Linked DNA regions of Homo sapiens. The protein of the gene in region 2 interacts with the protein of the main gene of each other region in a biochemical or structural test. Each region holds a gene or a part of one and is shown on either strand. Other genes may lie near its edges. The genes, in order: CLTC, CLINT1, AP1G1 and AP2B1.

Evidence for each region.
Region 1: the proteins of CLINT1 (region 2) and CLTC form a complex in vitro, tested with the Homo sapiens proteins (2 studies listed by BioGRID).
Region 3: the proteins of CLINT1 (region 2) and AP1G1 form a complex in vitro, tested with the Homo sapiens proteins (2 studies listed by BioGRID).
Region 4: the proteins of CLINT1 (region 2) and AP2B1 form a complex in vitro, tested with the Homo sapiens proteins (2 studies listed by BioGRID and IntAct, with this or other methods).

Annotation. Positions count from the first base shown.
Region 1 is NC_000017.11:59,622,879-59,629,905, reverse strand, and holds part of CLTC (clathrin heavy chain 1), read right to left. Parts: intron 1-7,027. UniProt on the Homo sapiens protein: Clathrin is the major protein of the polyhedral coat of coated pits and vesicles. Two different adapter protein complexes link the clathrin lattice either to the plasma membrane or to the trans-Golgi network.
Region 2 is NC_000005.10:157,786,126-157,793,152, forward strand, and holds part of CLINT1 (clathrin interactor 1), read right to left. Parts: intron 5,871-7,027; coding exon 5,578-5,870; intron 4,527-5,577; coding exon of another isoform or gene 4,500-4,526; exon of another isoform or gene 4,475-4,499; intron 4,316-4,474; exon of another isoform or gene 3,443-4,315; coding exon of another isoform or gene 3,389-3,442; coding exon 3,238-3,388; intron 1,894-3,237; coding exon of another isoform or gene 1,868-1,893; coding exon 1,521-1,867; 3' UTR 1-1,520. UniProt on the Homo sapiens protein: Binds to membranes enriched in phosphatidylinositol 4,5-bisphosphate (PtdIns(4,5)P2). May have a role in transport via clathrin-coated vesicles from the trans-Golgi network to endosomes. Stimulates clathrin assembly.
Region 3 is NC_000016.10:71,805,833-71,812,823, reverse strand, and holds the start of AP1G1 (AP-1 complex subunit gamma-1), read left to right. Parts: upstream 1-3,989; 5' UTR 3,990-4,061; intron 4,062-6,991. UniProt on the Homo sapiens protein: Subunit of clathrin-associated adaptor protein complex 1 that plays a role in protein sorting in the late-Golgi/trans-Golgi network (TGN) and/or endosomes.
Region 4 is NC_000017.11:35,590,311-35,597,337, reverse strand, and holds part of AP2B1 (AP-2 complex subunit beta), read right to left. Parts: intron 3,331-7,027; 5' UTR 3,308-3,330; coding exon 3,271-3,307; intron 806-3,270; exon of another isoform or gene 208-805; intron 1-207. UniProt on the Homo sapiens protein: Component of the adaptor protein complex 2 (AP-2). Adaptor protein complexes function in protein transport via transport vesicles in different membrane traffic pathways.

The DNA.
Region 1 (7,027 bases), on a different chromosome or scaffold from region 2:
AATGGTGCAGTTTTGTAACATCAAATCTATTTGCGTTATCAGGAGAGTTGTTTTTCTCTTATCTTTCTATGTAAATTATGATCTCTAGGCTGGGTGTGGTGGCTCATGCCTGTAATCCCAGCACTTTGGGAGGCCAAAGCAGGCGGATCACAAGGTCAGGAGTTCAACACCAACCTGGACAACATGGTGAAATCCCATCTGTACTAAAATTACAAAAATCAGCCAGGCATGGTGGCGGGCACCTGTAATCCCAGCTACTTGGGAGGCTTAGGCAGAAGAACCGCTTGAACCCGGGAGGCAGAAGTTGCAGTGAGCCAAGATCATGCCACTGTACTCCAGCCTGGGCGACAGAGCAAGACTCCATCTCAAAAAAAAAAAAAAAAAAAATTATGATCTCTAGAAACATGCCCGAATGGACTGCTTTTCACGGGATATTTAAATCATCTGCTTATAACATCCAACAGTTCCAACTGTGAGGCCATACACAGGAGAATTTTAGATGTGTAAAATTTGTCTCTCACTAATCCAGTTGATTTCAAGCCTACAGCAGCCTTTGCCAAACAGCATTCTGGTGCTCAGAACAGAAGCAACTGTGAGAGGACACAATACTATGGAGATTCAGTAAGGCTTTTAATAAGGAGACTCTTTCCTGAGGATATCTGTGGTAAAATAAAGAAACCTGCCTTAGATTTTCATAGTTCAATATGACCAAATATAGAATATTGCAGAGACTGGAGAAAGAGATGGGTTTTTGTAAACCATGTTCTCTCTACACGTTTTTCCCCCTTATTATTCATCTTTAAATAATGAGATCTATCCAAAGTCAGCTGTTTGCCAAGCAGAGCATATATACTGACAGTCTTTAGCTTCAGTCTGTCCACTTTGGTGGTTTTTTTTAAGCCACCTTTCTCAGATGAGCAGCTAATCAGAAATAAATGCAAGTTGGCCAGGCACGATGGCTCACGCCTGTAATCCCAGCACTTTGGGAAGCTGAGGAGGGTAGATTATTTGAGGTCAGGAGTTTGAGACCAGCCTGGCCAACATGGTGAAACCCCATCTCTACTAAAAATACAAAAAAAATTCGCCAGGCCTGGTGGCGGGCCCCTGTAGTCCCAGCTACTCAGGAGGCTGAGGCAGGAGAATTGCTTGAACCTGGGAGGCGGAAGTTGCAGTGAACCAAGATTGCACCACCGTACTCCAGCCTGGGCAACAGAGTCAACTCCCAATCCAATTCTCGTTTTTTCGTCTTCTATGACTCCCAGTTTCAACCTAGGGTCATGAAAAACTGTCATCCCTGAGACCCCCAGTGTGCATCACTGAGGAACTCCAGAAATCGACGGATGCAGAAAATGAGAAATTAGAGAGTCTGGTGTAACTTCAAGATCTTGGCTTCAATAACTGGGTAGATGGTAGTTTTTCTCCTTTAGTACGGCACATATATTCAACTCAAGTGGACAAAGGGAAACTCTTCCAGGGTGGAGGGGAAGAACTAATATTCGAGTGCCTGTAAGGGGTTAAGGGGCTAAATATTATACTACAAATACAAAAACATACTGTAGTCTAACTTTAAAATTGCCAGGAAATATTGTTTTAATAAATGAGGAAGTTGAGACAAGTTGAAAACCTGACATAATCAATAGATAAGCCCAGATTAAACATCTGAGACATTTTCCAGAATAGCACACTGCAGAGTTTTTTAATGTGACAAAATATGGCTTTAATGGATCTGGTTCCTATTCTTTCAGCAATAATCTTTAAAACCGTCTTACTTCAGAACTTGAAGAAAATCCTTATTTACCTAAGGATTAGGAACAAGAAGTATTAACAGTACTGGCAGTCTGCCTCCAAAGCACAACCCTACAAGTCTGTAACCATTTTCCTTTCTACCATGATGCTACTCAAAATGAGCAAATATATTCCATTGTCACCTTCATTTCCTATCCCTTTCATGCACAACTGCCTTCGTTGAGTTCAAGCTTCTATTTCTTGGCATAAACACAAAAACATGAATTTACAGTAAAATAGAAAGCAGAAGTTTCCTCCTTTCACAAGTGGCTTCAGACTGGAACACACTCATTCTTTTCAGTAAGAAAAAGTCTATAGAAAAGTGTGACAAGTTCAGTCTTATGAGAGGGATGCAGACAATCCTGGTTACAAGTTAACCGGATCCCAATCATCCTGCACAATTTTCCAATAGGAAACAGGATAAAGTCCTTAAAAAAGATACAGCTAAATAATCATTCAAGGCATAAAGTCAGATGTTAGTTTGCTGTCTCCTACTTTTCTCATAATATAAAAAATATTTCACGATAAACAAACGACAGTACTACTAGAATCAAAGAACATCACAGCATAGATATAAACAATTGTGGTACATTTTGCAATTCAAATGATACAGACCATTTACCAAATGAGGCAATGAGCCAAATGAAAGAATAAATATTAAAAGTCTGACTGCTCACTAGCTGTGTGACTCTAAAAGTTACCTACTATGAACTTCAGTTGCCCAATCTCTACAATAAGGCTAATCTGACCTAAGCACAAGGGTTCTCTTGCTAATTAAATGAGATAATAAACATTAAATATTTAATACAGTTCTTGGCACGTAATAGGTGCTCAAACAACTATAATGGCCCATGTATTTTGATTTTATGGATTAGATTACAGGACAATTAAGATTTGAATAGTTACTGCCTCAAAAATAGGACAAGGCTTGGTGTCTCACACTTGTAATTTCAGCACTTTGGGAGGCTGTGGCAGGTGGACTGCTTGAGCCCGGGATTTTGAGACCATCCTGGGAAACATGGCAAAACCCCGACTCTACAAAAAAAATACAAAAATTAGCCGGGTTTGGTGGCGCACGCCTGTAGTCCCAGCTATTTAGGGAGCAGAGGTGGGAGGATTACCTAAGCCCAGGGAGGTCAAGGCTGCAGTGAGCCTTGATCATGCCACTGCACTCCAGCCTGGGCAACAGAGTGAGACCCTGTCCCCACCCCCCAAAAAAAGTAGGACAAAAATATCTTAAATTATGTCTTAATTTAAGGAGATAATACAAAAGAAGAGACTCACAAAAGTCTGACAGATGGGTTTTGCATAACACATTTAGGTCCAAGCTTTCAGCCATCTTTTGAGTTAAGAGCATTAGCCATAGGCACTTAACCAAGAAGCAAAGACAAGACACCCAGAGCTGTAAACTTTGCTGTGGCTCAGAAGACAGGTTTATTTCATGAAGTAGTTTTGGCATGGCATATAGTGCATGAACTTAGAGAAACAGCCTCATTCTAATATACAGGACTAAAATATCAGCCATGAACCTACTGCTCATCTAAGTGAGAAGATTCACTTCAACACTACCACCCTAAAAAAGGACACATACAACACATACAATAACTCTAACAATCGCCTGACCGGCATTCCATATGGGTATTTTATCCGATATGATTCATTAAGTTTTTTTTTCAAATATGTCTGTTCAAGGAACCCTAATTTAAAATGTACCAGTGGCACACAATGAGACTCGTGGAACATAATAAAAGATTTATTTAAAAGTTTCTTTTTGGGGGGCAGTTTCAGAGTGTAATCAACTTTGTATCATATCAATATTTGTATTAAACTGTGCACAATATCAAATGTTCGAACACATAAAAGATCCACAATCAAGTAGACAACATCAATGGTTGGAATAACAAGTGTACAGCCTTTGCCAACTCATCAATGGAAGCATGAATGCAAGGTGTAGTCCATCTTGTTTACCACCTTGTCCCTAGAGTCTAACACAGTTCCTCATCTGCAGTAAGTACTCAAATCTTAGGTAAATGTGTTAACCCCAAATACTTATACACCATAAAACACTGGATCTGTAAATGAATATTGTGTCATTGGTTGAGATACCTGAATAAAATGTACTGGACAAAAATTATTTAGCCAATAATTAATGCTCCTAAAATGCTACGTAAAGTACTTTCACATACATGATCTCAGATCCTCATAATAACTTTGTGAGATAAGTATGCCCATTTCCCAGAGAAAAAAAAGCAAGAGGTTAGACTTAACCTGTGTTGTCCAATATGGTAACCACAAGTCACAACCTACATACCATAATGAGCACTTGAAATGTGGTTACCGTAATTTTAAAGTAATTAAAATTAAATAATAACCAGTAAGTGATTCAATTACTGGAAAACTTAAGTATGTTTGGGATCACTGAAGTATTGCATATCTGCTTTCCTTTTTCTTCATTTTTGTTTGTTTAATATAGAGACGAGGTCTTAACTCTGTTACCCAGGCTGGTCTTGAATTCCTGGGCTCAAACAATGCTCCTACCTTGGCTCACAAAGTGCTGAGTTTACAGGCATGAGCCACTACCCCCAGCCCCAAATCTGCCTTTCTAACTGTAAATTTTATGAACTCTAAATACGGACCAGGATTTCCAAAGAAAATAGGGTCTGAATTGATATATGCTCTAAGTACAAAATATACATAGCCGGGCACGGTGGCTCACACCTGTAATCCTAACACTTCGGGAGGCCGAGGCAGGCATTTCACGAGGTCAAGAGATTGAGACCATCCTGACCAACATGGTGAAACCCCATCTTTACTAAAAATACCAAAAAATAAAAATAAAAAAAAAATAGCTGGGCGTGGTAGCACGCGCCTGTAGTCCCAGCGACTCGGGAGGCAGAGGCAGAAGAATCACTTGAACCTGGAAGGCGGAGGTTGCAATGAGCCGAGATCCACCATTGCACTCCAGCCTGGCGACAGAGTGAGACTTTGTCTCAAAAAAAAAGAAAAAAAAACCACACACACTAGATTTAGAAAATTTAGTATGAAAAAGAATGTAAGGTATCTCATTAGTAAATTTTATACTGATTACATATTGAAATAATATTTTGCATATCCCAAGTTAAATAAAATATATTAAATTTAATTTTATCTGGGCATGGCATGGTGACTCACGCCTGTAATCCCAGCACTTTGGGAGGCCAAGGCGAGCAGATCACTTGAGCCCAATAATTTGAGACCAGCCTGAGCAATATAGCAAGACTCTGTCTCTACCAAAAAAACCCAAAATTAATTAATTTTATGTTTTTTCACTTTTAATATGGCTGCTAGAAAACTTAAAAAATTATTTATATGAGGCCAGGAGCAGCAGCTCATGCCTATAATCCCAGCACTTTGGGAGGTCGAGGTGGGCAGATCATTTGAAGTCAGGAGTTGAAGACCAGCCTGGCCAACATGGTAAAACCCCATCTCTACTAAAAATGGAAAAATTAGCCAGGCATGGTGGCAGACACCTAAAATCCCAGCTACTTGGGAGGCTGAGGCAGGAGAATCACTTGAACCTGGCAGGTGGAGGTTGCTGTGAGCCGAGATCGCACCACTGCACACTAGTCTAGGTGACAGAGGACAGAGTGAGACTCTGTCTCAAAAAAAAAAAAAAAAAAAAAAAAAGTATGTGGCTCATATTATTTTTCTATTGGACAGCATTTGTTTCAACAACCCCTAAAGCCCTCCCTGTTCTGTCTACTATACCACATTGTTAATCTATAAACAAGTAGAGAGAACTCACCTCTCTGGGCCTAAGTCCAACAGACAAAAAGCACTCTAGGATACTGTATAACTTCTTTTTTTAAGGTCAATTATCCAATTTCTTTGAAATATTTTGTGTCAGAAGACTCAGGTACACATCCCATTCGGACAGCATTCCCACTACTTTATGAGTCTCACTTTTTAGAAAGGTGTCTGGGGGGATTGAGTGAAGATCTGAAAGTACCTAGCCAAATTTACAGCACATAATAAGGTCTCAAGAAGTCTGCTGCTAGTCATTGTTCATCACCACCACTTTCCAAGACAGACAGTATTCAGTTAAAACTTTTGAACAATGAGTGTTTTAATTTTAGCTAACGAAATATTCTAAATACATAAACATGAGTGGTGAGATAAATCTTCAAACTTACAAAACACATCAGCATGGCCTATAATTGTGCAGTCCAATGTAGGAGTCAATTGTCACATGTGGCTATTTACATTTAAATTAAAAAGAAATTAAAGCAAAAATTTAGTTTTTCAGTCACATCAGCCACATTTCAAGTGCTCAATATCCCTATGTAGCTGGTAGACAGTTCCATCATTGAAGAAAGTTCTACTGGACAATAACTCAAAGAGAAAAAGCCACAACGGTAACAATGACAGGGAAAACACCTTGTTAAATATAATTTGAATAACATATAAACATATGTATGGAAAAAACAATTTTGCAAAGAAGCTGAGGATTCGATATAAATGGAATCTTTTAAAAGCAAGGTACAAATTCCAATTATGGTCAGAAACAATTGTTCAAGAGCAACTACCATGGTTCCTGAAATGTGAATTTTCCTAAATACTCAAATGAAAATGATTGTGTTCTACATACACACCATTCTGTGTCTTATTTCCTAATCAGAGTGAAAGCACTTTCACTAAAATTAACCACACACTTTAAGCTGGGTAAACTGACCATCAAGAAAATTCTGAAGAATATGATACATTTTAAACTTAGAAGCTATTCCCAGGAGACTGCCGCATAATTCCAGGAAGTCTACCTCTTCCAGAGAGTACAACTAAGCATGTAGTAAATCCCAGTACTTAGCATTGCTTTCTATTCACAATCCGAACTAACTATAGCAAGAACCCCTAACATTTGACTCAACAACACATTCCATGCCTGCATCTATGGATCAAAGGGGAAAGAACAGGGTAGGGAGATTTTTAATTGAAGACCCAAAGAATCTAGGAATACAATGGAATGTGTCAAGTGGCCTAAAGATACTTAATGTGCCAGAAAATTGAAAATCACCAAAAAATTAAGAATCACAGGCAATATTTTATATATGTAGCCTAGGATTTTTATAGAATCTTCAATTCCAACAGTATCTTGCTCAAATAGGCACTCATTTATTAACTGCTATCAGTCTAAACAGTCTAGGAAAAGAGAAATCTTCATATATTCACATTCATTTGCTGTAGGTCCAAGCTTTGATGACAAGAG
Region 2 (7,027 bases):
CTTCATTTTTAATTCCTAACAGTAGAGTCTGATAGGAAAGAATAGAGAAGTCATTAAATAATTTTAAATTATTTATAAAAATTACTTTGCCCAAACTATAATTATTTTTTCCCCAAATGGTCTCAAATGTCTAACAGAACGAAAGAAAAAGCAGTTCAACATTGATTTTAATGAACATTTTAATGTTATGTATAACAGAACATTATGAATATAATGGAAATAAAGTTTTATCAATTTAATAAAAAAATTTTCAACATAACATGGGGAGGTAATAATTTGATATCTATATTATAGTATTTATTTTGAAAAATATTCCCAGCTTGAGGGTAAAACAATTAATTTTGCATTCCAAACTCTAGAATCATGATTTTCATGTGAGCTTAATGCAGAATTACAGCAGAAAAACAAAAACATTTTCATTAATTTCCTTTGTCATTAAATCAATAAAATCTTTGACTGCTACAGGTCTCCTTTAACAATATATATTTAACTCCTCTATTGGAACCATATTGCTAATGCTGCATTATATACACTCAAAACCAAAACAAAACAAATACTGTATAAAATCTAAAAGCAAACATTGAGTTGTAACATTTATATTTAACTTAAGGTTTTAATGGATTTTTACCTTTGCAGACACCCAAAAAAAAAATAAAATAAATATTTTTCTGACTGTTCCTGACTTAAATGATGGCTACAGGGATAAACACGGAAGGAAGCCTTGCCAAGTTAATCACTGCAAATTGTAAATAATGACTGCTAAAAACAAACAGAAGTTTTTTTCTTTTAAAGGAAACCATAGAGCAGTCCTGAAAAAAATTTCTTCCTAGTTCTGCACAGGATAATTACAGCAGAAGACATGGGAAAAGTCCCATGGCAATCACCAATTGCTTAAAGAGGTTTTGTTACAATAAAAATTTGGATAGTATAATAGCAGTGTTGCTGGAACATTAGCAAAAGTATATACATTCCAGTTACCTTTGATTTAGCCATAATCACATATGTATGCTTTTTTTTTTCTTGGACAAAAATATATATTTTTATAAAAAACTGATCATCCAACTTTAATGATTTCATATATGGACTCAAGAGTGGTAGTAAAAGGAACAGACCCAATTATGACAAGGCGATCCAGGGACAGAAAAATCAAGTTCCTCAGGAAAAGAAAGTATAAAATTAGAGATTCAAACACATTTATTCAGCCCTATTCCAGTCTTCCCACAAATTATGCTGTTAAATGGACTCTTCAGTTGATAAAGGCTTTCAATGGTCTCACCACCCACTTGTGGTCTATCCTCACTGGAAAAAAATGATTTTGACTGCCTCATCTGAAGTGCTCTTGCCTGGCCCTCTGAAATACTGGATATTTCACTTTTATAAAACAGCCTTTTTGGTTCTTTATGTAGATTTATTTTAATTACTTGATAAAAGAAAGGGTAGTTGATTAGCATTTTCCATCCCAACATCACCTATCTGCACAGCTAAAAATTCTTCATTCAATCTGCTTCTTTTACAATCTCTTATTTGCTAAAATTGGCGAAATTTGCAAAGGCATCTTGCTTGGGTTGCACAGTTCCAGAAGTCATGGCTATGTTGGGCATGCCCATTCCCATTGTGCCTGTCAAGCCCATCCCAGCAGCGGACATCCCTATGTTCATGTTCATGCCCATCATGCTCTGGTTCATCATCGGAGTATTTCCAAGAGGGGCCATTCCCATGGTGCCAGTCATCACATTGGGCATGCTCATAGGCATGGGTCCCCCTATCAAAGCATTAGTTTGGGGCCGGACAGGAAGCATGTTCGATGGAGAACTGAGGTTCACAGCTCCAAAACTTTGAGTCATCACATTCATAGGCTGCTGCATATCTACCAGACGAAAACAGACAGAAGAACTTTACCACAATAAATTTTTAGGTTCATAGAACAGAGAACTAATAACTTCTTGACCATCTATCTATACTTCTTTAGCCCCAATAAAATTCCTTTACAGTGATTTTATTAGAAATCAATTACTCTGCACTGGTTCCTCTTGAGACATATATTCAGTGACTATTGGCTCTGGTTCCCCAGAGATGTAGAAACAGTAAGAGTAGACTGGGGAAAAACAGCCAACTTAAAAACATTCCTACAAAACCTATTGTTAAATCCTACTTAACAAGTTGTCAAGAGCTAGTGTGTATAAAAAATCTTTCAAAGGTTTACATCCTTTGACTTATTCTATTTTTAGAACATTCTATTAAAAAAATCAGAAGTATGAAGATTTATACAAAAATCTTTAAAAAGTTTATATCCTTTGACTTATTTTTAGAACATTCTATTAAGAAAAAAACAGAAGTATGAAGATTTATACAAAATCTTGATTTATAATAACAAATAGCTGGAAACAATTGAAATAATTAGCAAGGGAAATCATACACTAATATAACTATCAAGAGCTAACAATCATTTTCCTAAGAATATTATTCAACACAGGGAAAATGATAACTTAATGTTGAATAAGAAACAGTATAGAGAGAATGATCCCAAGTATTAAAAATATGCTTAGAAAAGATGGAAAGTGGCCAGGCGCGGTGCCCCACGCCTGTAATCCCAGCACTTTGGGAGGCCAAGGCGAGTGGATCACTTGAGGTCAGGAGTTCAAGACCAGACTGGACAACAGGGTGAAACCCTGTCTCTACTAAAAATATAAAAATTAGCCAGGTGTGGCGGTGCACGCCTGTAGTCCCAGCTACTCGGAAGGCTGAGGCAAGGAATTGCTTAAAACTGGGAGGTGGAGGCTGCAGTGAGCTGAGATTGCACCACTGCACTCTAGCCTGGGCGACAGAGCAAGACTCCATCTCAGAAAAAAAAAAAAAAAAAAAAAGAAAACATAGAAAGAAATATGTATTAATGGCAATTACCCCTCAACGGCAGAATCAGATGATTTTTGTTTGTCCATCGTATTTGCCTATATTTAAAAAAAAATCTGTATAGCAAATTTTTATTTTAGTGATCAGGTCCTTAAAACTCTCCACAATACAATAAATGTTATCAGGACAAGAATAGAATATAAAGTAATTCAATGTGCCAGGAGGAATACCCAGTAAATATTATGTGAAAATATCTTAAGTGAACAGGCATTTGGTTAACTGTTACAATTTATGTGATATATTTTTATTTATAGTTTGAAGTAGTCCTGGCATTAAGGCAAAAGACTGCAAGTACACAAAGAAGTGGGACGTCTTAAGGTAACTTACTCTGTTGCTGAATCATTGTATTCAGTGATGGCTGCTGGGGTTTGGAAGGCTGCATACCAGGTAGTAAGTTGTCTAGGCTGATGTTTACACTGGGGTCAGACCAAGTAGAGGGCAAGGTTTTGCTGACTGATTTCTGGACCATATCTGTATTCTGATTATAGAGAGGATTAGGCTTCTGCAGCACTGTGCTAACATTTTGCAAAGGCTGGAAAATAGAAAAATGCTCTAAAAATTAAGCATCTGTTCTATAAAAATTATCAGATGGCAATTTAATCACAACAATGAACTTCTGAAACAAAAAGAACCACTAATGTTCTATGCTAATGTCTTCAATACCCTGAATCATTAGCTTCCCAAAGAGGTTCCTCTGAAGTCCCAATCAGGTTTGAGGTGGATAAAACCAACAACTTACCTACACTAACAATTATTCTCCCATCACTCAAAGTCTAGAAGCCACCATCCCTGGCAAATGCCCAGGGGAACTACCGATTTTAGGTTAGTACAGCTTTAAGGAGATACACAAGTGGACATTTATTCTTTCAAAACAGAATTCAGAGGCCAGGCGCAGTGACTTATGCCTGTAATCCCAGCACTTTGGGAGGCTGAGGTGGGCAGATCACCTGAGGTCAGAAGTTCAAGACCAGACTGGCCAACAGGATGAAACCCCATCTCTACTAAAAATACAAAATCAGCCAGGCATGGTGGCACATGCCTGTAGTCCCAGCTACTTGGGAGGCTAAGGCAGGAGAATCACTTTGAACCAAGGAGGTGGAGGCTGCAGTGAGCAGAGATCGTGCCACTGCACTCCAGCCTGGGCGACAGAGCGAGACTCTGTTTCAAAACAACAAAACAAAACAGAGAATTCAGGATATGATGTCTCACATTATACAAGGATATAAGGCAAAACTGTCAAAAAGCAATTTATATTTCACATATCCTGACATTTTGCTGTTCTGTGTATACTTTTACTATCTAAAGTGAGCAACACTAACTGAACTGATTAATATATGGAACAATGTAGGAGAAAGAAGAAATTCAGGAGAAAGAAGCAGAGGTTCCTAGTGGTTATTGAGGATAACTGAAAAGGACAGAAAAAAGGAACAGGAAGAGGAAGAATAATTAAAAATGTACCAATGCAAAGAATTATGACAGTTACAATTAAGACTGCAAATAAAGTAGACTGACTTTATGCTTAACTCATACATTAGGTCTTATTTCTGTTACATAGAGCAGTCACCTTTCTGCTTCTTTCTTCTTTTCCTTCATCCTAATACCCCAAAGACGAGAATCTACACATTAAAATGAGTAATTAGCATCATAAACACATATTCTCAATAGTTTGAGTCAAAAATAGCAAGTTCCTGGTACCATTCAGACACATATTTTCCAAGCCTGCACTTGTCTGAATTCTAAGCTAGTACTAGGTAATTCGGATTTAACTATAAAATAGTGAATTAAGAAGCTCCCATTTTGGTTGTTTTTCTTTATGAAAATGAAAGTTGAAAGATGAGCCTATAAAACATTTATATAATGTAGAGCAGGTCCAGAATTGGGAAGAACATTCACCATTCGAGAGAATGATTTTCCATATTAGCAATAATTATTTACAACCAATGAGTGATATTTCTTTAGGGACATGACCAGAAATTTTACTAAGTGGATACTTGCCGTAAGTGAAACAATATCTCTATTTCTTTTTCTTTTCCTTTTTTTTGAGACGGAGTATCACTCTGTCGCCCAGGCTGGAGTGCAGTGGCGCGATCTCAGCTCACTGCAAGCTCCACCTCCTGGGTTCACGCCATTCTCCTGACTCAGCCTCCCAAGTAGCAGGGACTACAGGTGCCTGCCACCATGCCTGGCTAATTTTTTGTATTTTTAGTAGAGACTGGGTTTCACCGTGTTAGCCAGGATGGTCTTGATCTCCTGACCAAGTGATCCACCCACCTCAGCCTCCGAAAGTGCTGGGATTACAGGGGTGAGCCACTGCGCCTGGCCTATTTCTTTTTCTTAAAGACAATTTAAAAAAACTATCAAGTACCAATTTGTTGTAACAATAAATTTTTGCCATGTTCCTCCTCTGTGCAAAGGCACCATGCTTGGCTTTACAGTGACTACAAGATGGGGGAGAAGGTCTTGCCTTCCAGAATGCAAATGACTATGCTAGGGGAGAGTATGAGGTAAATGAAATGTGCAAATGCGTATATATACACACACAGACACATATTCATACACATAAAAAGGACTTGCTTATTTTTCTGTTTTATACTAATCTATCATTCAATGAGTTAGAGCATCTCAAAGATTATAAATAACAAATTCCAAGGGAACCAGACAACTTACCTGTGATCTTGACATAGGCAAACCAAGTCCCACAGTGTTAGTGCTCATCATAGAGAAATTCATACTCTGGGAAGATGTCATGGTTGCCTGGGACGAGCCCATAAGATCAAACAGGTCTGAAGAATTTGAGGCAGCAGGAGGTGGGCCTAGAGCTGATTGTGAGCCACTAACAAGTTCTACCGCTGGCTGTGAGGCACTGCCAAAGAACTCGCCACTGGAAGCAACAGGGCCTGATGGGGCTTGGTTGAAGGCACTCCAGTCACCAAAGTCTCCATTCCCACTTGTTGCTGTTACTAAGACAGAAATAACTCTAAGGGTAAGAAACTTCATGGAATGCACAGAACAAATGTAACAATCTATGAACTGAAACAAATTAGAGCTGATCTGAGTCCCCCAGATTAACATCTGCAGGTACCATCTCCATCTGGACAGTATTCTTTCTCATAAATATTACACGAGAGTTAACAAGGTGGCAAAGAAAAAACAAACCTCCCAAATATAACGTAAAATCCATCTCTTGGCAGCTCTGTAGGTGACACATTGAATTTACCATAAAAAAAAATGGCCAGGCATGGTGGCTCACGCCTGTAATCCCAGGACTTTGGGAGGCCGAGACAGGTGGATCACAAGGTCAGGAGATTGAGACCATCCTGTCTAGCACGGTGAAACCTCATCTCTACTAAAAATACAAAAAAATTAGCTGGGTGTTGTGACACACACCTGTAGTCCCAGCTACTTGGGAGGCTCAGGCACAAGAATCGCTTGAACCCGGGAGGCGGAGGTTGCAGTGAGCTGAGATTGTGCCACTGCACTCCAGCCTGGGTGACAGAGCGAGACTCCGTCTAAAAAAAAATGAAGAATTTCTCACTTATTTGGCCATACTTCCACTGACAATACAAGGGCTATAACCTTAGCACATTGCCTGCTTCAACTGGGACCATTTATTTACAATCAAAGAGAGGAGGAAAACTCATGTAATATTAAAAAACACAACCAAGCCAGAAACAAGCAAAACCCTATCATACTTTGCAAGTTTAAGGTTGAATGCATAAAATCCATACTCTTAATCACTACAGTCTTATCAATTAACCTCTGATCAATTTTTATATTGAAAGGAACAGATAAATACGCATAAATGGAAGTTGAAAAAGCAAAATGTGAAGAAAGAGCTACATAAAAACCGTCATCTGAAAGCAAATAGTAAGTATGTACCTTCCAAGTTAATTAACACCATCCCTTTGCATTCCATGTTCATTTACAACTTGGAAATACATTTTGTCTAGCCTAAAAAGTGACCAACCACTACAATACCATGTCTCATTATGCTAAATATCAAAAGAGAATAATAAGGTGAAGTCTTTAAAATTACATTCTTCTATTACCATATTAAAATGTAAGCACCCTTGAAAGAGAAAATAATTCACTTAGAAACTCCAAGTTCTACTAACAA
Region 3 (6,991 bases), on a different chromosome or scaffold from region 2:
ACCTGAAGCCAGGAGTTCGAGACCAGCCTGGCCAACATGGAGAAACCCTGTCTCTACTAAAATATACAAAATTAGCTGGGCGTGGTGGCGCATGCCTGTAATCCCAGCTACTCAGGAGGCTGAGGCAGGAGAATTGCTTGAACCCGGGAGGTGGAGGCTGCAGTGAGCCGAGATTGTGCCATTGCACTCCAGCCTGGGCAACAAGAGTGAAACTCCGTGAAAGAAAGAAAGAAAGAAAGAGGGGCGGGGAGGGGGGAGGAAGGGAGGAAGGAAGGAAGGAAGAAAGATAGGGTCTCACTATGTTACCTGGGCTGTTCTCAAACTCCTTGGATCAAGTGATCCTCCCACCTTGGCCCCCCGAAGTGCTAGGATTACAGGTGTGAGCCACTGTGCCCAGCTGGGGCAACTGCTTTTAATTTTAGTTGCATGGAAGAAGGGTTTGGTAATTATAAATAAAGATAAATGGCCTGGGCGCGGTGGCTCACGTCTGTAATCCCAGCACTTTGGGAGGCTGAGGCGGGCAGATCATAAGGTCAAGAGATCAAGACCAGCCTGGCCAACATGATGAAACCCCGTCTGTACTAAAAATACAAAAATTAGCCGGATGTAGTGGCACGTGCCTGTAGTCCCAGCTACTCGGGAGGCTGAGGCAGGAGAACCACTTGAACTCGGGAGGTGGAGGTTGCAGCAAGCTGAGATCATGCCACTGCACTCCGGCCTGGCGACAGAGACTCTGTCTCAAAAACAAAAACAAAATAAAGAGAAATGTAAGTTAAAAAGTACTGAGAAAGGGTTTAGTTTTTAATGTTTAAAACTCTTTAACGCTCTGCACTCGATATGGTAGGAAAAAAGATCTTTCCGGGGCCGGGAGCGGTGGCTCACGCCTGTAATCCCAGTACTTTGGGAGGCCAAGGCGGGCGGATCACGAGGTCAGGAGATCAAGACCATCCTGGCTAACATGTGAAACCTCGTCTCTACTAAAAACACAAAAAACTAGCCAGGTGTGGTGGCGGGCGCCTGTAGTCCCAGCTGCTCTGGAGGCTGAGGCAGCAGAATGGCGTGAACTCAGGAGGCGGAGTTTGCAGTGAGTTGAGATCGTGCCACTGCACTCCAGCCTGGGGACAGAGTGAGACTCCGTCTCAAAAAAAAAAAAAGCTCTCTCCTCCTTAGGTAGCTGGCTTAATTTTTCTTTTGTGGTTCACAATGATACACATTTAAATTTGACCTCTAAGCATTTTTTTGTGGTGTTCCAAACGGAATACTTTAGCTAACTCTGCTTTGCAACCTGCAAACTTCTTACTTATGTGGAAACCCCAAACTAAGTTTGGCCTGTGTTCCCTGCATAGCTATACCTCAGAGGAAATTGTGTTTTGGCTTCATTCCACTATTTACTAGCCTTGTAGTCCATGGTTGCACTGTACAGTAGCAGCATGGCAGAGGATCTGAATTCTGTAAACATTCTGTTCTCTAAACCACTTGTTGGGGGTTGACTCCATCCACCCTGAGAGTGTAGGTATGTGTGTAGGTAGGTAGGTAGGTAGGTGGGTGGGTAGGTAGGGGTGGTGGAAGATTGTGGTACCCTATGCTAATTTATAAAATGGCACTCTGGCCTGGCATGGTGGCTCATGCCTGTAATCCCAGCACTTTGGGAGGCCGAGGTGGGTGAATCACCTGAGGTCAGGAGTTCGAGACCAGCTTGGGTAACATGGTGAAACCCCGTTTCTACTAAAAATACAAAAAATTAGCTGGGCGTGGTGGCATGCGCCTGTAGTCCCAGCTACTTGGGAGACTGAGGCAGGACAATCACTTGAACCTGGGAGGCGGAGGCTGCAGTGAGCCAAGATCACGCCATTGCACTCCAGCTCGGGCAACAAGAGTGAAACTCTGTCTCAAAAAAAAAGGCACTCTATAGCTCTGTAGCAGAACCCCAGTGGAGGAGGGGAGAGGATGTGTCTTTTAGCCAAGTTAGTTTCTTGGAGCCTCTTTTTCCTTATTTGTAAAACTAAGTTACTTATGCTTGCCTAGCCTGACTCAGGAGGTTGTCCAGAGGGTCAGATTAGATTATACACATGAAAGTGCCTTATGAACAATGTGATATCAATATTTAATAATACAAATGATAATTATTATCGCACCCATGGCCTCCTTTCTTTCCAGCCACTTGGCATGCCCCAGTAGTTCAGGGACAAAATTGTACAGATGGGCCTACTTGGTTCAATTTTTTTTTGTTTTTGTGAGACAGGGTCTCACTCTGTCGCCCAGACTCGGCTATCTGCAACCTCTGCCTCCCAGGTTCAAGCGATTCTCCTGTCTCAGCCTTCCGAGTAGCTGGGATTACAGGTGCCCACCACCATGCCCGGCTAATTTTGTATTTTTAGTGGAGATGGAGTTTCACCATGTTGGCCAGTCTGGTCTCGAACTCCTGACCTCAGGTGATCCGCCCACCCCGGCCTCCTAAAGTACTGGGATTACATGCGTCAGCCACTGTGCCCGGCCTACTTAGAGCAATTTTTGTTAAGTGTTTTGAAATCCCTGCATGAAAATGACTAAGGAAAAAAGTGCAACCTTCTCTCTATGACACCCAAATCCTAAACTCAAGATTTGTGGTTAGTTCTGGCCAGGCCGGTGGCTCACACCTGTCATCTCCACACTTTGGGAGGCCGACGCAGGCAGATCACCTGAGGTCAGGAGTTCAAGACCAGCCTGGCCAACATGGCGAAACCCTCTCTCTACTAAAAATGCAAATATTAGACGGCCGTGGTGGCGGGAGCCTGTAATCCCAGCTACTTGCGAGGCTGAAGCACGAGAAATTGCTTGACCCCGGGAGGCAAGGTTGTAGTGAGCCGGGATCCCGCCACTGCACTCCAGCCTGGGCAACAGAGCGAGACTTTGTCTCAAAAAAAAAAAAAAAATTTTTTTTGTGTGGTTGGTTCTGTTCTCTTTGGCACCCAGCCTGCTGCTGTGTTGTATTGTACTTTGTTGCCAATCTAGCAGAAGGATTTTAGTCTAGGTAGGTCACCTTTCCTTTAAACAGGCCAAGATATCAGGCCCTCTTTACATTCACATGGAAAAGACTCACGTCATATGTTAGTAATTATTTATCAGGTTAGGAACTGTCTGGTTAGACTTTCTTTGGCCCTGGTTATTAATTCATGGAGTCATAGACCGAAAGCCCATTCTGTAAGGGTTTCAGCTAACATGAGTCCAAGTCTTCTTTCTACATATGAGGAAATTGAATCCCTGGAGAGTTTAAGTGACTTGAGCAGTGCAAGCACCGCGGTACCGGGCGTGGAATCCATTCTTTTCAGTCATCCTCTTAACTCTTCATAAAATATGTTGCAAAGACACCATAAAACCATAGAATACCACCTGGAGCATGCTCCTTAAGTTATAAAGAAAGCAAAAATCTTAAAGGAGACAGCAAAGAGTTCGGGATTCCCGTGGACGAAGACCTTTTCAGCCCTGCTGTCTTCTCCGCCCCCACCTGTCTCGCTTGCTCTCACTTCCTGGGCTACCTGACTTAGCTCCGCCCCCTCCAGGTGGCTCCACCGCTTCCTGGTAGCCCAGCTCCACCCCCCCTACCCCCCCACCCCCCTACCCCCCACCCCCCTACCCCCTCACCAAGCGGAACCAATGTCCGTCCGCTACGGGGTAGGCCGGATCTTTCTCGCTCAGACTCATCGCAGCGGTGACTCGGCAGCAGCGTCTCGCGTCATCAGTGACAGCCCCGATCCTTGCTACGTTTGCGTCGCTCTGCCAGGAGCAGTCGCCTCCTCCTTGGCAAATAGTCCTCGGCAGGGTCCGAGTTCTTGGATAATTCGAGAGAAAAGGCACGATAAGTTGCAGTACGAGGACACGGAAACGACCAGGAGAGGAGGACAGGGAGCGAAGTTTCCTCAATAGTGTGTGAAGTTAGTTAAAAACTCCCTCCTTCCTCAGGATCCCTCCGCCTGCGGTAGCGGTGGTGAGGCCGAGGGAGCCGCCATTTTGGATGTTCGGTTCCTGCTGCCACTGCTGCCGCCGCCCCCGGAGCTGCTGGTTTCATTCGAGGTTTCGGGCCGGTGAGTGTCACTCCCGGCGCTGAGAGCATATTGCTGCTTTTGCCCCGCCGCTGCCGCGGGCGCTCGACCGGAAGCTTCCTTTCAGTTTCAGGGGTCCAGTCCCAGGCTGTGGGTGTTGAGAAGAGAAGACAGAGAAGCTGGGCCAGGAGAGGCCGGGAGCCCCAGGGGCTGCTCCGACTTCTGGAGGGCCGACCCCGAGGCCTCGGACCGGGAGGTTCCGCGCGCCGCGGCGTTCCGTGTTGTGGCGTTGCCCCGCCGGTACGGGCCTCCTTGAACCCTTGACTTTCTCAGGCTGCGATCTTTGAGGGCTCATTCAGGGAGCCTGGGGTTTAGCGGGGCGGGCCCCACCCCCGCGTGTCTTCTCTGAGCCACGTATCAGCGTTCTTGTGTCTTGTACCCGTGTCAGGTCTGTCAGATAACTCCCAGCATATCCAAATGCCCAGTTAATCGCTGCCTGCCCCTGCAGTGCCGTCCTCTCGGAACCGGACATCGGCCTCGCCTCTCTCTAACCTTCCGACCAACTTCTTTCCCAATTTTTCGTGTGTGTGTGTATATGTTGTTGTTTTGTTTTTTTCAACCTACCTGCGAGTATACTGTTTACCCTTTTCTCAGCTCCTGGCCCTGCGGACGTCAGCGTCTAATAATTCTCCCGGTCTTCCTGATTGCCTGAAAGAGTCGGGACGGTTCGGTTGATTGTGTTTCCCGGTTAGGACTCGGTGTAGGAGATCCATCGAACCACTCGCTCAGGGTAATGTTTATGAAGCAGATTATGTTTATGAAGCAGATTAAATGGCTTTTGGGAGGCAAGAGCTGTCAAATGTTTTCTCATATGTGGATTCCCTCCCTGTGCTGAATACTTAGCTTTTTGGTGCTTACTGACACTTGTGTGGTATTTTTTTTTCTCCCCTATTATATATCCCTGAGCACGGAAATCTGTCCATGGAGAAAAATATTAATCTGAGGTAGGTAGAAAGGAGAGTTGGGCTGCTTTACAGTGATTAGTTAACAGAAGGGAGGAGTTAGTGCTTTCTTAGTGACCTTAACTTTGAAGTGTTTGTACAGTAATGATCTTTGCTGACTGATTCTAAAAAATACTTGTAATGATTTCATGTATTGGGTTTTTCTGGGGATAGCTGAATTTTAAATATTCACTTCCACCGTTCCCTAGAATACTTGTCAAATACCTAACTTGTCACACACCCTAACTTTCACGTTTGAAAAATATGAACCCTCTAAGTACTCGTAATCTCGTCACTTTTATTCTAAAGGCATGTTTGCAGTCTAGCATGCTTGAATAAAAAGTATGTCTTTATTTTTATTTATTTATTTTTTGAGACGAAGTCTCCCTCTGTCTCCAGGCTGGAGTGCAGTGGCACGGTCTCGGCTCACTGCAACCTACGCCTCCCGGGTTCAAGCAGTTCTCCTGCCTCAGCCTCCCAAGTAGCTGGGACTACAGGCACACGCCGCCACGCCCGGCTAATTTTTTGTTGTTGTATTTTAGTAGAGATGGGGTTTCATCATGTTGCCCAGGCAGATCTCGAACTCCTGAGCTCAGGTAATCCGCCCGCCTCGGCCTCCCAAAGTGCTAGGATTACAGGCGTGAGCCACCGTGCCTGGCAAAAAGTATTTCACAGTTATTCACTGATACATTTCCTACGTTTCAAGTTAGGCGAGTGTGATTGAATCACCCTTATTTCATCTCAGCCTGGGTTTTCACATCTGCAAAAGAGAAATTAACTTATTTGAGATCACAGTCTAGTGGTTGAAGTTTAAATTTATAACTTGAATTGAGTCAAGCTTTTTAATATTGCTAAGCCACTTATAGATGCATTATTATTATCAGGTTATTGAAATGAGATTGTAGATAAATTCCTCTATAGGTCATATGATGTCTCAGAAGAAAACAATATTTTCAGTTTAAATACTCAGTGATCTTGTTATTTAAGCAGATTTTTCAAAAATATATTAGTTACTATTAGATACGTGAGTTCTGTATTACCCTGAAGCAATGGAATTTTCTCTTTTGGTTTAAAGGAACTGTCAAACACTGAACACCTATGTAATGCTCACTCATTTAGTAAGTATGCCCTCGCAGTTACTACTGAAATGTTCCATTTCTGACTTAGACTTTTCAAGTAAGGTGTTAGAAGAGCTATCACATAGATGTTAGTTAACTCAGTGTTTTTCATGCTTTAATATATTGGTATTTAAATGTCATTCAGGCGGGCGCTCAGTGGCTCATGCTTGTAATCCCAACACTTTGGGAGGTGGAAGGTGGATCCCTTGAGCCCAGGAGTTGGAGGCCAGCCTGGGCAACCTAATGAGACTCCGTCTCTACCAAAATATTTAAAAATATTAAACTTTTAAAAATTCATTCTTAGATAGTTTGCATTCACTGTAGAAAGGGTCCTTTTGCCTTAACAAATTCCTAGCAAAGTGTTGTTTAGTGCACCATTGATCAGTGCATATTTGAATGTCTGCTTTGCGTTTAGGAAACCTCCGTTTTCTTTTGGGGGCAGTTGCTTGTTCTTTGGTCTGACCTCTGTCATTGATAGCAGTTCTAGATTTGAGGGCAGATTTTAGAGTGAAACTTTAAAGTACAGAATTTGCCAGGAATGCCTTGGTGATATTTCACCCCAGTGTTTATTTAAAAAAGGAGTTTTAAAAATCAGTGGTATGCAAACAAAACCAACTTCTTTATGATTTATAAAAACTCTTTTTTTTTTTTTTTATTATTTTTATTGTTTGAGACAGGGTCTCACTCTGTTGCCCAGGCTGGAGTGCAGTGGTCTCAGCTCACTGCAGCCTGGACCTCCTGGACTCAAGCGATCCTCCTGCCTCAGCCCTCCACGTAGCTGGGACTACAGGCGTGTGCTACCACGCAGGGCTAATTTTTGTATTTTTTGTATAGATAGTGTTTTGTCATGTTG
Region 4 (7,027 bases), on a different chromosome or scaffold from region 2:
AGTAACAACCCTAATATTGTTTAAAAGAAACGGAAAAAAAACACTAAGTCCATGAAAAAGAGGTTGACTACTCCCATCTCAACTTTCCATCTACATCCTCCAGCTCATCTACCATACTGCCTCAAAAGACTTTCCTCCACCTTCAAGACTGTTCCTGTCGTTCCTTTCAACCAGATCTCATTTACCAGCATAGAAACAGTGGGGACAGTCTCCGCTTCCGGAGGTCGCTACTGCTGCCTCAGTGGCCCCGGAGCGGGGGCGCCCAGGGGTCCTTCGCCCCCGGCCACGGCCCCCACAACGGGGCTTCGCCGCCACCTGTGTCCGAGCTGGACCGTGCAGGCGCCAGGCTCCTCTCCGAAAGGCGCACGAGACAGCTTTCTTCTCCTGGTTCCACAATGGCCTCCTGGCATAGGGCATCGGGGTTATCTCCTTCATGCAGAGTGACATGGATCACGAAGCAGCATATGGCTTCTTCCTGCTGGGCGGCCTGTGTGCGGTGTGGGGCAGCGCCTGCGGGGCCTGGCAGCGCTGCGGGGGCCCATGCAGCTGACGCTAGGGGGCGCAGCTGCGGGCGCTGTACTCGCCACCAGCCCGCTCTGGGTGTGCGCCGCCGTGGGCTTCTACACCGGGCAGCTGGAGCTGGACGTGAAGCTGGTGCTCGAGGGCGACGGGGCGGCCTCCGCGGAAGGCCCTGATGAGGCAGGCTGGCCGCCACCCGAGTGAGCGACATGGCCGCCGGGCCTGGCAGGCGCGGGATGACGGCGCCCGAGGACTGGGACATTAAAACCTGACCTCCCCTCCTCCAAAAAAAAAAAAAAGAAAGAAATAGTGGGGACAAACACTACGTGATTTGCCTGAAACCATTATGTGGAAAGGATGAAATTAGTAAGACACAGAAGTAGAGCACTTTTTCGTTTCAATATCCATGGCCAATAAGGCAAAAAAATTGTTCCAAAATTTCTATTTAATCAACAGCTACAAAAGTAGCATAGCAAGAAAAGCTGGGCCCTTTAAAGAGTCATTCTTCATAGGACTCTTCACCATGTCCCATCCTGCCAAATCCAGCTCTTAGAGTTCCTCTCATTCACTTCCGGGAACAGTGAAGGACAAACGGCGGGGTTTCAGAAAGTCTGAATTGTGAACAGCAGCAGGTGTTATAGAATCAAAGCAGGATGTAACAGAAATTATTCCAATTCCAAAAGCATAAATTTAAAGAATATGTTTCAGTGGCAGTTCTGGTGGGTGTTGCAGGAAGTACAGGGAACACAATCTATCAATTTTTTTTAAGTATGATGTTTATTAGCAGTGATTCAATCTGCAGTCTCAAACTTTTACAAATGCCTGAATTAAAAAAAGGTCACCAGGACACTTTTCAAGAGTAGGTTTGAAGAATTAGGAGAGTTTTAAAATTATAACTATTTAATTGTAATTGTATCCCTTTATATAATTATAGACATTTTGTTCGTCAAAGCACACAAAATGCTAACAGAAGAAGAAATAAACATATTTCCAAAAGAAAATCAGAAAAAGCTGAGACTGAATGACAAGTGGCTAATGGCTTTTGTGAGGTGTAAGTAATAAAAATAAGGAGGAAAAAGTTGGGCAGGACCAAAGAGGGGTACTAAAAGAGGCAAAGTCATATATTCTACAACTTTATTAAATTCCTATATTTTCTCCCTCCTCCTCCCCCCAATCAAATCTACCAAGCACTGTTAGCAGCTAGCAGTAGTTCTCAATCATGGCTGCACATTAAAATAATCTGGGGAGCTTTCTTTTTAATTTTTTTCTTTTGAGACAGGGTCTCTCTCTGTTGCCTAGGCTGGGGTACAGCGGCACAATCACGACTCACTGCAGCCTCAACCTCCTGCACTCAAGTGATCCTCCCACCTCAGCCTCCCAAATAGCTGGGACTACAGGTGTGCACCACCGTACAGGGCTAATTTTTAAATTTTTTTTCATAGAGATAGGGTCTTACCATGTTGCCCAGGCTGGTCTCAAACTCCTGCACTCAAACAATCCTCCTGTCTCAGCCTCCCAATGTGCTGGGATTACAGGCATAAGCCACCATGCCTGGCCACCTGGAGAACCTTTAAAATCCTCACACCCAGACCATATCCAGGACAACTGAAATCAGGCTGAGGTTGAGACCCAGGCATCAGTATTATTTCAAAGTTCCCTGGCTGAGCAATTCTGATGTGTTGCCAAGACTGAAAGCTACAGACAACAAACTGACATAATTAAGCAACTCACTGCAACAAGAGAAAAAGAAGAATGGTAGTTGGCGCCATGTCTGGAATACTTTGGTAAATGTAAGGACTCCTGAACACAAAAGCACAGAATTCTGATCCTAAGCAACAAATAAAGCAAGCTAAGCTACAGGCACAATAAGCTGAGATGGGCTAAAATGTTTGTCTTTGATGGGAAGACCCTCCACATTTCTAGAAATGATCTATTTTATTTAGGAACAATTTTACAAAAGATGAAGGGTTGGACTTTCCCCAGAAGAATCCTTTGTTCCTAGACCCAAACTCATAGGTAAAAACAAGCATTATATTACTGATAACAAAGATGATGAGAGTAATAAGTGCAAAGTCCCTCAAGTAATTCCGTCTATGACCTAAAAACCATAGATGGCTCTAGAGATTCCGTTTTAAATATACATCTAGACGAAGAACATGGTAGATGTATATGGACGGATATGAAAATAACTCATTTCTATTCATTGTTTTGCAAGATTGCTTTTTCATTAAAGATAAAAAAATTTTAAATCATATGTATTAATATATGCACTCATATGCAGAGAAAAAGACTTGAGGATATACACCAAGTTCCCTTGGGAATAGGAACAGGAAGGGAGAACTTTCATTTTTACCTTTTACATACATATCTGTATTGCTTTAATTGTATTCTTTGTTATAAAATGTTTATTTCCAAGTAAAAATTATTTAATAAAAGGGAAAAAGTATGCTGCTTCTTTTGTCCTCCTCACACTTAACCAATCTCCAATGGATCATCTCAAACAGCAAAGAGGAGTCTCTTTCACTAAACAGAACCTTCAAGTCATAATAATGTGCATCACAGCCCTCTCTTTTAAAACCTACTCTTTAATAACTTGCTTGAATACATTCATCTATAGAAGTAGTAGATGTCCAGTGAGATTGTCAGCTACATGTATGTCTGAAGGAAGAGGTCAGCAGCATTCTGCCTGGGGCAATCTTACACTACAACTTTTGAAAATTTCAAAAGATTTGATTGTATTCTCATACTTACCTTTTTTATTGGTTGTGAAATACTTGGAGTCAGTCATGACTTTGGATCTTTAATGTGCACCTATAGCAAGAGAAAAGAATTCCTTCATTCAGGTTATAGATATCCAACAAGGCATCCAATTAATTTTAAGAACATCCAATTAATTTTAGGAACACTTATATTTAAGAATTTCTAAAAATGAGTATCATCTTCCTTTATCACCACCGTTGATGGTTCAAGAAAAACTAAGAATGTAACTCCTCAAGCTAATGGGGCAAAAATCTAAAGGCCAAATGCAACTGGGTAAAAGTATGAACCTATTATGGCTTTGTGATTTTATCCACAGTAACTCCTCAAAGCTTTCAAGAGCTAAAGCTGGACCTTTTTATAAATATATCTGCAATTACTTTCCATTCAGGAAAATCTGGTAACTTCCTTGCCTCAAGCTGGAATCACTCCAAAACATATATTCTGAAGCAGTGTAAGGTCAAAAGAAAAAACAATTTTGCCGATCTATGACATGAAACTTTCAATAAAAAGAATCTCTTTCAGAAAAAAAAAATTCAAAATTAGTAGGACAATATTCTTTCACAACAAACATCTAGAGAGGCAACCATGACTTATGCATGGAATTTTTTTAATTTTTAGTTTTGTGGGTATTTAGTAGGTGCGTATAGGTACATGAGATATTTTGATAACAGGCAGACAATGCATAATAATTACATTAGTGTAAATGGGATATCCATCACCTCAAGCATTTATCCTTTCTTTGTATTATAAACAATTCAATTACATTCTTTTAGTTATTTTTAAATGTACAGTAAATTATTGTTGACCGCAGTCACCCTTTTGTGCTATCAAATACTAGATCTTATTCATTGTATCTAACTATATTTTTGGATTTAAAAAAAAATGTGGCTTTCTTACTTCCAACAATCCAGATTTAGCCCAAGAGTATTCCCAAATAATGCCAGTTTATAGTTAAAAACAAGGCAAAAGACTGAGACATCCGTTCAGACACGAGAATCAAACTGGTGTTGAAACAAAAGAACGTGGATCTCAACCTCAACCTTAACTCTTCCATCCCAATTTCCAGAAGAAGTAATCCAGATGACAAATGGCTCTACTAACAAAAACGGCACAGTCTGGTCACATTTTTACTAAATAATAAGACTACTTTTTCTGATTTGAGAAACTATAAGACTTTGTCCAATGTACCAGACTTCTTTAAATATATTAAAATTTTGGGGCCAGGCACAGTAGCTCACGCCTGTAATCCCAGCACTTTGTGAGGCTGCCGGGTGGATCACTTGAGGTCAGGAGTTCAAGACCAGCCTCGCCAACATGGTGAAATCCTGTCTCTGCTAAAAATACAAAATTTAGCTGGGCATGGTGGCACGTGCCTTTAATCCCAGCTACTTGGGAGGCTGAGGCAGGAGAATCGCTTGGACCTGGGAGGCGGAAGCTGCAGTAAGCCGAGATCACGCCACTGCACTCCAGCCTGGGCAACAGAGCAAAAGTCCATCTCAAATAAATAAATAAATAAATAGGAATTTGGGCCAGGCGCGGTGGCTCAGGCATGGTGGCATGTACCTGTAGTCTCAGCTACTTGGGAGGCTGAGGTGTGTGGATCGCTTGAGCTTAGGAGATCAAGGCTACAGGGAGCTATGATCTCACCACTGCACTCCAGCCTCAGCGACAGAGACCTTGTCTCAAGGGGAAAAAAATATATAAATATACATATATTTTTTAATAATATTCCTTCTGTACTCAAAATGAGTATCTTTTTCCTTATCACCATCACTAATAATACTTATCACCAACTTCAGGACAAGACATGCTGGCACCTGCTCATTATTATCAGGTCAATATGACATAATGTATTTGGCAAACAATAGTAAATATGGATCTAGGAGAAAAGACCTAAGCACCAAACAAATCAATGTAATTAAAGAAAAGAAAAAAGAGCCAGATAAACATAAAATAATGAAAAACTTCTGGTTCAAATCTGATCTCTAAAACGTGCTACTTGTACAGTTTAATGGAAATTAGACTCATTTGCTATCTTTCCAACCAGCTAATTACTATTTATAGTCTTGATCCTAATAGCTCTTTAGATTGTACCAGAAATTCACAGAATGATCTTGTTAAAAGAAGTGAGCTAGGACTCACAAATATCATTACAGAATATAGAAATTTCTCCTTTAATACTTGTTATAATTAAAAATTATACTGAAGCTTGCCTTATGCAATGTTTTTACAATGTGTTTCTAGCAAAAATTCAAAGAATGTTATAATCATTTAGTCCATTCATAATGTAAACTAAATGTGAAGTGGGCAAATGAAGAAAGGAATTCTTCACATAAAAGACCTGGAATAAATCTGAAGTTATTTATGAATGTATATATACAAACAGAAAAACCAGTAAACAGAAACGATTACTTGAGCCTCAAAGAAGGACTATAGCTCAAATCCATTACAATCTGTCTAGGATATTTACTATGCTATGCTATGTCCTTTAAAACTTGTTTAAGATTTTAAAACAAAACCTCCTTAGAATTTGTCACCCAATTTCTCTGAAAAGCCTCTTATACATACACATATTAAATTTTTTTTGGCCAGGCACGGTGGCTCACGCCTGTAATCCCAACACTTTGGGAGGACGAGGCGTGCGGATGGCTTGAGCTCAGGAGATCGAGACCAGTCTGGGGAACGTGGCGAAACTCCGTCTCTAATAAAAATACAAAAATTAGCCGGGCATGGTAGCACATGCCTGTAGTCCCAGCTGGGACTCACTGCAACATCTGCCTTCTGGGCTCAAGCAATCCTCCTGCCTCAGCCTCCCGAGTAGCTGGGACTACATGTTGGGATCACCGTGCCCAGCCCATTAAATTCTTTTTTTTTTTTTTTTTTTTTTGAGACAAAATCTCACTGTGGCCCAGGCTCCAGTGCAGTGGTTCAATTTGGGCTCACTCCAACCTTTGCCTCCCAGGTTCAAGTGATTCTCCTGCCTTAGCCTTCAGAGTAGCTGGGACTACAGGCACCCACTACCACGCCCAGCTAATTTTTGTATTTTAGTAGAGACAGGGTTTTTCCTTGTTAGCCAGGCTGGTCTGGAACTCCTGACATCAAGTTATCCATCCACCTCGGCCTCCCAAAGTGCTGGGATTACAGGCATGAGTAAATTCTTAACAGGCATTTTCACTACATTCTATTAAACAATAAATTAACCTAAGTCTTAAGTCATACCTTTATCAGTAGCTCACATATTTCATTATCTCCCCTAACAATTTCAATGTCAAGGAATATATTACTATCCTGTTCACTGTGAGCATTAAGTGTTCTTGTCTTAACTAGAAAATAATGCACCCACCCACAAAATTTCAGGGAAGAGAGGAGGGTCAAGTATCTTTAGAAGCCTATAAGATAGATTCTAAATTAAGAGTCCCTGCTGCTCTAAAGAGAAGGGATATCACTCTAGTAACCATATTGTAAACAATAGTAACAAAATATTCCCTAACCATATTGGCAGAGAAACATGGTGCCAAGCTGGTTCTTGCCTTAAGCCAAAAGAAACTCCAAGAAAAATGAAAATAGTGTAAATAAAAACAAATCAGAAGACATGATTGTTGCACAACACTGTCAGTGTACTAAATGCCACTGAACTGTATGCCTTAACCTGGTTAATTTTATGGTACGTGAATTTCACCTCAAAAAAAAATCACATATATATATGATTCAGTGTATCTCTCATATAATGAGTTCTCACCTCATATAA